Regions from separate parts of the Homo sapiens genome. Here region 1 is linked to region 2. The links come from fine-mapping of genetic effects on gene expression. A gene starts in region 2. The other region holds a variant in brackets. All regions are shown on one strand. Distances are between the middles of the regions. Region 1 overlaps NUP205 (nucleoporin 205). Region 2 holds the start of STMP1 (short transmembrane mitochondrial protein 1).

Evidence for each region.
Region 1: its variant is fine-mapped to the expression of STMP1 in prefrontal cortex (BrainSeq, PIP 0.95).

The regions. Positions count from the first base shown.
Region 1 is chr7:135,629,452-135,633,843 of GRCh38, reverse strand. It overlaps NUP205 (nucleoporin 205), which reads right to left. Exons shown (of 43, transcript NM_015135.3): 35 at 3,374-3,500. Among named protein-coding and RNA genes, the nearest start is that of STMP1, 31 kb to the left of the region's middle. The variant G/AG (reference allele first, on the strand shown) is at 2,088.
Region 2 is chr7:135,660,266-135,664,657 of GRCh38, reverse strand. STMP1 (short transmembrane mitochondrial protein 1) reads right to left here and starts at 2,144. Exons shown (of 3, transcript NM_001130929.2): 1 at 2,064-2,144. The coding sequence starts at 2,078. It also overlaps the pseudogene RPL15P11. RefSeq lists enhancers at 361-885, 886-1,410 and a silencer at 2,050-2,269.

The sequences.
Region 1 (4,392 bases), 31 kb after region 2:
TATTTGGTATTATTTTTAACAAAAATGTTAAGCACATATATTTCTGATAAAGTACTGCCAGGAATTTATCAAGTCTTATCAGTTCAAATGGACAAAAATGGGGCCGGGTTCAGTGGCTCACGCCTGTAATCCCAACACTTTGGAAAGTTGAAGTGGGAGGATTGCTTGAGGCCAGAAGTTTGAGACCAGCCTGGGCAACATAGTGAGACCTTGTCTCAACAACAAAAAATTAAAAATTAAAAAAGTAATAAAAATAAAAACAAATGTAAAAAATGTTCATGAATGCATATGTAAATATATAGCTAGAGGTAAACAGATAAGTACACACACACATATACACACAAAATTATTAAATGCCACACTGTTTAAAATTTTAAGAAGCTTGGAAACAGTCAACATGTCATAGAATCTGATTAAAAAACAAAGTACTAGCTAGGCATGGTGGTGTGTGCTGTATTCTCAGCTACTTGGGAGGCTGAGGCAGGAGGATCATTTGAGCTCAGGCGTTCCAGCTATGATCATGCCACTGCACTCCAACCTGGGTGACAGAGTAAGACCCAGTCTCTAAAACAAACAAATAGGCCAGGCGTGGTGGCTCCTGCCTGTAATCCCAGCACTTTGGGAGACTGAGGTGGGAGGAATGCTTGAGGCCAGGAGTTCGAGAACACCTGGGCAACATAGCAAGACCCTGTCTCTACAAAAAATAAAAAATTAGCTTGGTGTGACAGCATGTGCCTGTAGTCCTGCTTACTTGAGAAGCTGAGGTGGGAGGATCACTTGAGCCAGGTAGGTCGAGGCTGCAGTGAGCCACGATTGCAGCTTTGCACTCCAGCCTGGGTGACAAGAGTGAGACCCTGTCCCCCCAAAAATAAAAACAAAAACAAACAAACAAATAAAACAAGGGTCTGGTTAACTATCTCACAACTGGAAAACCAGGCAGTCAATTAAAAAGGATGGGCAGGAGCTGTATGTGCTGATGAGAAAAAATCTCATGGAGACCCTGCAATTTACAGAAGTACATTGAGAGTAATTAGTTAAGTCCTGGAAAAAATCAAAGGAAAAACCATTAGGAGTTCCACCCCACAACACTACAGGACCTTAGTAGAGACAAGAAGGGTGGCCTGACTTGGTATCATCTTAGGACACTGGAATGAACTGGTGAACGAAGCACACCACAGGCTGGGTGGAATAGACCCTGGGATCTCCTTGGAAGAAGCACAGGCTCCAAGTAACTCAGCTGGCACTGTACTCAGCCCTGGCCAACTCTCAACGTCTCTCAACCCAGAGGGCTCAGCCACCGAGACAGCCCAGACAAAAAAAATTATTGGGGATTATAGGGTGGATTCAGAGGTTGCCTCAGACATCTCCAAAGCAACATAAAAATGGAGGTAGTGTAGCCTCGTAGTTACATATATAGATTCAAAAGACGTACTGCCTGGGAAACTCTATACTATGCAGTGTTATCTGTGTGACTTTGGACAAGTTAACCTCCCTGTGCCTCAGCCTCCTCAGCTGTAAAATGTGGATAATGACAGTTCTACCTCATAAGACTGCTGTGTCTTCCAATCAATTAACATGTCAAGTATTTAAAACAGTACCTGGCACATACATGCTTAATAAATGCCAGCTACTATCATTTATATTACATATTCTAAGCAAAAGAAAATCATAATCGGCCGTCCTGTCATTAAAGAACAAAGACAACCTTCAGACATTCTTAGAGAATTTCAGGAATATGAGACAGCATGCTTTTTCTTGAGGGAAGGAACCTCAGTACAAATTAAAAATACCAAGAGATAGGCCGGGCGCGGTGGCTCAAGCCTGCAATCCCAGCACTTTGGGAGGCCGAGGCGGGCAGATTACAAGGTCAGGAGATCAAGACCTGGCTAACACGGTGAAACCCCGTCTCTACTAAAAATACAAAAAATTAGCCAGGCGTGGTGGCGGGCGCCTGTAGTCCCAGCTGCTCGGGAGGCTGAGGCAGGAGAATGGCGTGAATCGGGGAGGCGGAGCTTGCAGTGAGCCGAGATCGCGCCACTGCACTCTAGCCTGGGCGACAGAGCAAGACTCCGTCTCAAAAAAAAAAA[G/AG]AAAGAAAGAAAGAAAGAAAAAAAAAAATACCAAGAGATAAATCAAAAGAAAGAACTCGTGAATGGTGACGCCATGGTGGGGAACACAACTGGTGTTTTGCAGTGAATCCATGTAAATATACAACTAAAACTAAGTAGCTGAGGATATTATGGTTGCATAACAGATGTAAATGTTACAAAACCTGACAAGGTTAAAATGATATAAGCAAACATCATCTGAGGGTGGAAGAGGAAGTGTAAAAGAAGTCATCATTTCATCTTTCCCATCAGGGAGTTAACTGATTCAAAATTTACATGTAGTAAAGAAATTATAAGGGGGGAAAGTAACCAAAGTATCTTAATAATGTTTCATAATGTTTTTCCTTACTCGCAGTGATCTTTTAAAAGGTGACATACTCTAGTAGTAAAGAAACATTTGTCTGGAATTTGGCAATTCCTTTCGTTTCTCTTCAATTAGATTTTTGTCTGTGTTCATGTAAAATTCACATGTATACCTATGTAACAAACCTGAATGTTGTGCACATGTACCCTAGAGCTTAAAGTATAATAAAAAAATAAATAAATTCATGTAAAATTAAATATTTGTTTTTTAAAACAGCATGTAAAAGGTCATCCTATTCTCATTAGTTGCCTCTGTATGTCTCTGTTGCTTTCTTTCTCTCTCTCCCCCTCCCTTTCTCATATGTACGTACACATAAAGCAATGTTTGAAAATTTATCAAATGTCAACATTTGGTAATTTCTAGGTGGTGAGATTTTGAGTGTTAGTTATCTCCTTTTGAATATTTTTATAATAAGCCTATATCTTAAAAAAAAAAAACAAAACAAAACAGAGACGGAGTCTTGTTCTGTTGCCCAGACTGGATTGCAGTGGCATAATCTTGGCTGACTGCAGTCTCAACCTTCCCAACTCAAGTAATCCTCCTACCTCAACCTCCCAAGTAGCCAGGACCACAGGTGAATGCCCCAACACCCAGCTAATTTTTAAAATTTTTTGGTAGAGACAGGGTGTCTCTATGTTGCCCAGGCTGGTCTTGAACCCTTGGCCTCAAGCAATCATCCTGCCTCAGCCTTTCAAAGTGATGAGATCACAGGCATGAGCCACCACACCCAGCCAAGCATGTATCATTTTATAAACATAAACTTATTACATAAATAAAGGCTCTGTTAGCAGTACCAATTTCAAATAAGTCATATATAGCTGCAAAGTAACAAAAAAACTCATTCTATTAATTTATGTCAGTCTTTAAAGAATTATTAAAAATCCTTTCAACATAATCAACTCACCAGGAAGTGCTGCTTTACTTATAATTCCTGTCAGCAGAGCCAATTCCTGCAAAGACCCAGCACTAACATCCTGACAGCGCAGAATTGCTTGTATGGTATCAGAATGTGAAATAAGAAACTGCAATACCTAAGCCATTGAAAAGGAAGAGGAATAGAAAAAACAGGTAGAAGTAGAAAATTATATATAAATGCATAATTCATTTTATAAATAATGTTGAAGGAAGTAACCTTCAACTTTACCATAATACTCAGTAATACAATACTCAGCCTCACAATAAGTGAGGATGAGTAACAGATAAGCAATTGTTTTCTGCACTCACATATTTATCTCTTCAGGAAGTAAACATTTAAAATTCACAAGACTAAAGGATTATTTTAAAGCTTATAAGTTAATACATTTGGAGACTACTGTAGAAGAATATAACTCAGAACTACTGTATGAAAACTATTATCTGACCCCTATTTTCTTTATTGTTTGGCCAAATGAACTAGAGTAAGAATGTAATATAAATGGGTATAAAAATGACTAGTGAATTCAAGAAGCTGTTCTATGAAACAGTAACTAGCATGACATGGGGAAATCACATAAAAGCTTTTGTCTAATTCTTTTTTTAAAAAAATTCATTTTTATTATAATAGAGATAGGAACCAGGCATGGTGGCTCACGCCTGTAATCCCAGCACTTTGGGAGGCTGAGGCGGGTATCACCTGAGGTCAGGAGTTTGAGACCAGCCTGGCCAACATGGTGAAATGCCATCTCTACTAAAAATACAAAAATTAGTCAGATGCAGTGGTGCACACCTGTAATTCCAGCTGCTCAGGAGGCTGAGGCACAAGAATCACTTGAACCTGGGAGGTGGAGGTTGCAGTGAGCTGGAATCGTGCCACTGCACTCCAGCCTGGGTGACGAAGTGAGACTCTGTCTCAAAAAAAAAAAAAAAGAGAGACAGAGAGAGAGACAGAGAGAGAGAGAGAGAGAGAGAGAGAGAGAGAGAGAGAGATAGGGTCTCACTATGTTG
Region 2 (4,392 bases):
GCATCTCTCCTTAAATACTGAGAATTCTGAATTCTCAAATCAGAATCTGACCAGGCACAGTGGTGGCTCATGCCTGTAATCCCAACACTGTGGGAGGCCTAGGCAAGACCTGTCTCTACAAAAAAAAAATTTTAAAATTAGTCACGGGTGGTAGTGCGGGCCTGTAGTCCTAGCTACTACTAAAGAGGCTGAGGTGGGAAGGCTGCTTGAGGCCAGGAATTAAAGACTGCACTGAGCCATGATTGTGCCACTGGACTCTAGCCTAGGTGACAAAGAGAAACCTTGTCTCAAAAAAAAAAAAAAAAAAAAAAAATTAACACACAGTAAAAGTTTATTGCAAAACCAAATAGACTCATTCTGCAAAACCACTTAGAAAGTTAACTGTAATTGAATCATGTCCTCTCAGTTTATCAATGAGCAACAGATATAGTAAGCAGCTCAATTACATCATTCTATACTCTGGAGCTAAGTGATACCGCTTTTAATCTAGTGTTTACTACAAGAAAATGACTGTCATTATTCTGAACTCCTAAACTAACATCTAGTTAGGACACTACAGAAACTCCTAGAGGCAAAGGAGCAGCCCTGTCTTAGCTGGGCAGATTAAGGACACTCTTTTGACTAATTGGATTTAACAATCCATTACCATCTTTCAAAAGGACAAAAGGGGTGCATTTTGTGTTTTAATCTCTTTGATAAAGATACAGCATTTGGGGCCGGGCGCGGAGGCTCACGCCTGTAATCCCAGCACTTTGGGAGGCTGAGGCAGGCAGATCCCGAGGTCAGGAGATCGAGACCATCCCGGCCAACGGGGTGAAACCCCGTCTCTACTAAAAATACAAAAATTAACTGGGCCTGCTGGCGCGCACCAGCTACTCGGGAGGCTGAGGCAGGAGAATCGCTTAAACCCAGGAAGCGGAGGCTGCAGTGAGCCGAGATCGCACTACTGCACTCCAGCCTGGCGACAGAGCGGGACTCCGTTAAAACAAACAACAAAAAAAGATACAGCATTTGAGCCGGGAGCAGTGGCTCACGCCTGTAATCCCAGCACTTTCGTAGGCTGAGGTGGGTTGATCACTTGAGGTCAGGAGTTCGAGACCAGCCTGGCCAACTTGGTGAAACCCGTCTCTACTAAAAATACAAAAATTAGCTGAGCATCCTGGTGCGCGCCTGTAATCCCAGCTACTCCGGAGGCCGAGGAGGGAGAATCGGTTGAACCCGGGAGGCGGAGGTTCCAGTGAGCCCAGATTGCGCCACTGCACTCCAGCCTGACGACACAGCGAGACTCCGTCTCAAAAAAAATAAAAAATAAAAAAAAATAGAGGTTGAAAGCATCAAGTTTTGAATGCACAATAGCTTGGCAGAAAAACTTTCACTTGAAAATTTGATGAGCAACTCCTGGAACCTTCACCAAGCAATTTTTGAAATATACCGAGTTTTGCCAGAAAACTCGTTTTTAACTCAAATAAGGAGCCAAGAGAAATAGTCTGCTTACTCATGCTTACACATTTTGGGAAAAATTACTTGTATACCAGTGTCTGACTCATTCCTCCAACTCTGAAAGGTCTGATGAGGACTTAGCCTCTCGGACTTCGTGAGGTGGCTAATTTACGGTTTATTCCTGGCCTTCCTACCTCCTCAGAAAAGCCAACTAGCAGGGCTCCACAGCAGGGACCGGCCGGCGACCATGTAATGGAACAGGAGCGCAGAAAGAAAGGGGGGCGGACTACGAAAAGTCATCAAGGACCACACAAGCTTTAATACAAAGATTGCACAATGAGCGCGGGGCGCGGCACACAATAAGAAGCTCTGGAAACGCACACTCTCTGACACCTCAAAGTTTTAGGGACTTGGATGGCTGCAGAAAAATATTGGCAAAGGGATTTTCTGGGGAGGCAGGAAGAAAACGGCCGCCCTGCGAGGCGACGACCAGGCGCGGGGGACGAAGGGACCGCTGGACCCACGCCCAGGCCGGGTCGGCGGGGTCGGCAATCCTCAAGGGGGAAATGGGGTCCGAGGCACGCCCCAGGCAGCGGGCCCCGCTCTTCGGCAGCTCCACTCACCAGGAACTGGAGCATGATGTCGGTGGGGAGGGCGAGGAGGGCGCGAAGGACTGCAGCAGCTCCGCGGGCCGGTCCGAGCCTACCTCCCCATGCGCGGGGGGGGCGGAACCCCTCGTCGACTTCCGGGTCACGCCACGCCCCGCCCCGCTCCTCCCACTCAGCCCGCGCCCGGAAACGACTTGCAGTGTCGCAGCGCCCAGGTTCCCCCTGGCGGAGCGCGTTGGCCTCACCGCCTGAACCGGCGGGGCAGCGAGCGCGCGACAGGACTTGCGAAGAGCAAGTCCCGAGCCTGGCTGGGCATCCTTGAGCATCCCGCCTCTGTAAACCTGGGCCGAGGCCCAGGAATCTATATTATTCTCAGCACGCGGACTATTCTGATACACAGCCCAGTTTAGGGCTCTCTAACCTAGAAGGACGGCATGAGCAGCGGGTCCCATCCCTAGGTTCGCAGCTGAATCGTGGGGGCTTTTGCAGCATCCTCTACTTGGGCCCAGCTGGACTTTGCGGGGAGGAAAGGAGGCTTGTAGCTCTCAAAGCTCCGCAGGTGTGCTGTGTAATCAGCGTTGTGTAATCAGGTGTTGTGTAATCAAGGTAGAGGCTGGGTACCGTATGGGGCCCATGCTGCCGTGTGCCGCACGCCAGTCACTGAGATGATGAGTTTTGTAGCAGAGAAAAGGTTTATTCACCAGGCAGCCAGCCGAGGAGACGGGAGAACAGATCTCAAATCTGCCTCCCCAAAGATGGGTTTTAGGGATATTTATGGGATAGAGGAGCAGGGTGGTCTGAGGTGTGGGGAAAGGCGGTTGAAGGTAAGGAAAAGTTTGGCAATGGGTTATCTGCGCGAGGTAGTCAAGCTTCATGGCTCTTTATAGGATACATGGTCACAAAATGACATCCTTAGCATGATCTGAGTGTGGAGGTTTTGGCCCTCTAATGTCAGAAGGACACCCATCGGGCTTTCATGCAGGCCCAGTTGAGAGGTTGGTGGTTTAAACTGTACAAGAACTGACCCCAACTTCCTGAAAAACAAGAAACCTTTATCAAGCAACCCAGATGTCAGAGATGTTATCCATAAGGAAGATAGTGGGAGCTTAGATATATATTGTTTAGCTCTGTGACTTTAGCTATGTGGGTTTTTTAATCCACTAAAAGCAGGTGACTAAAAACAAGTGAGAGAAGTTGCATTTGGCAGGCCTCATCAGGTTGGCTCTCAGTTTCACTGGCCTAGCTGGGTTTCTTGCCTGGGATGGCCATAGGTCCTGTTGACAATTTGTATCATCGCCACAAAGAGTCTGTTCTGTCAGTCTTCCGGTCTGTGTATGTGTGTGTTTTTTTCTCTCTTTCTCTTTTAAAGAATTTATTTTAAGCCTATTATACCACACAGTATGTTTTAAACACTAACTCCCTAATAAGATATATAACTCCCTAATAAGATAAAGCAAAGACAAAAAAAGTTCATCTTATTAGAAACAAGATACACCATCCCTTATTGTCTTCAAAAATTATTGCACTTTAATTTTCATAATTTGACAAAGCATTCATGAAACAATCTGCAGACTAGTTTTAACAGACAAATAACACCTGTAAGCAGACATGACTGTCCTAAATTATTAGGTACGAATTTTACAAACTTTTTTTTTTTTTTGAGACGGAGTCTCGCTCTGTCACCCAGGCTGGAGTGCAGTGGCGCAGTCTCGGCTCACTGCAAGCTCCGCCTCCCGGGTTCACGCCATTCTCCTGCCTCAGCCTCCCGAGTAGCTGGGACTACAGGCGCCCGCCACCACGCCCGGCTAATTTTCTGTATTTTTAGTAGAGACGAGGTTTCAACGTGTTAGCCAGGATGGTCTCGATCTCCTGACCTTGTGATCCGCCCGCCTCGGCCTCCCAAAGTGCTGGGATTACAGGCGTGAGCCACCACGCCTGGCCCAAACTTTACTTATATTAGTGGTAACGGTGGAGCTGGAGAGTATCACGCCTTCTCCAAGCTGCCCAGCAAGAACCATCAATAGTGTGGTGGAACTTATGGCACTTTCCAAGGCCACAGCTCCTTTGGCCTGCAGATGTCAGCCCACACATCTCCCTCTGCTTGTGGACTGGTTTGGTGATCGACTGGGTGTCAGGATTTCTTCTGATAACTTCATAGAATGGATCAATGAGGATAACCTCAAAAAATCTGTATGTGGAATCTTCACCAACCCAGTAAGAATTCAGGACTCTTAGAGCCCCACAGTTGTGTCCAACTCGCTCCTCTGCAATGGACTGAAGGCTTCGAGCAAACTTCAGCTGGTTAACACCATGATGGACAGGCTTGCCATAAGTTGCACCCTTA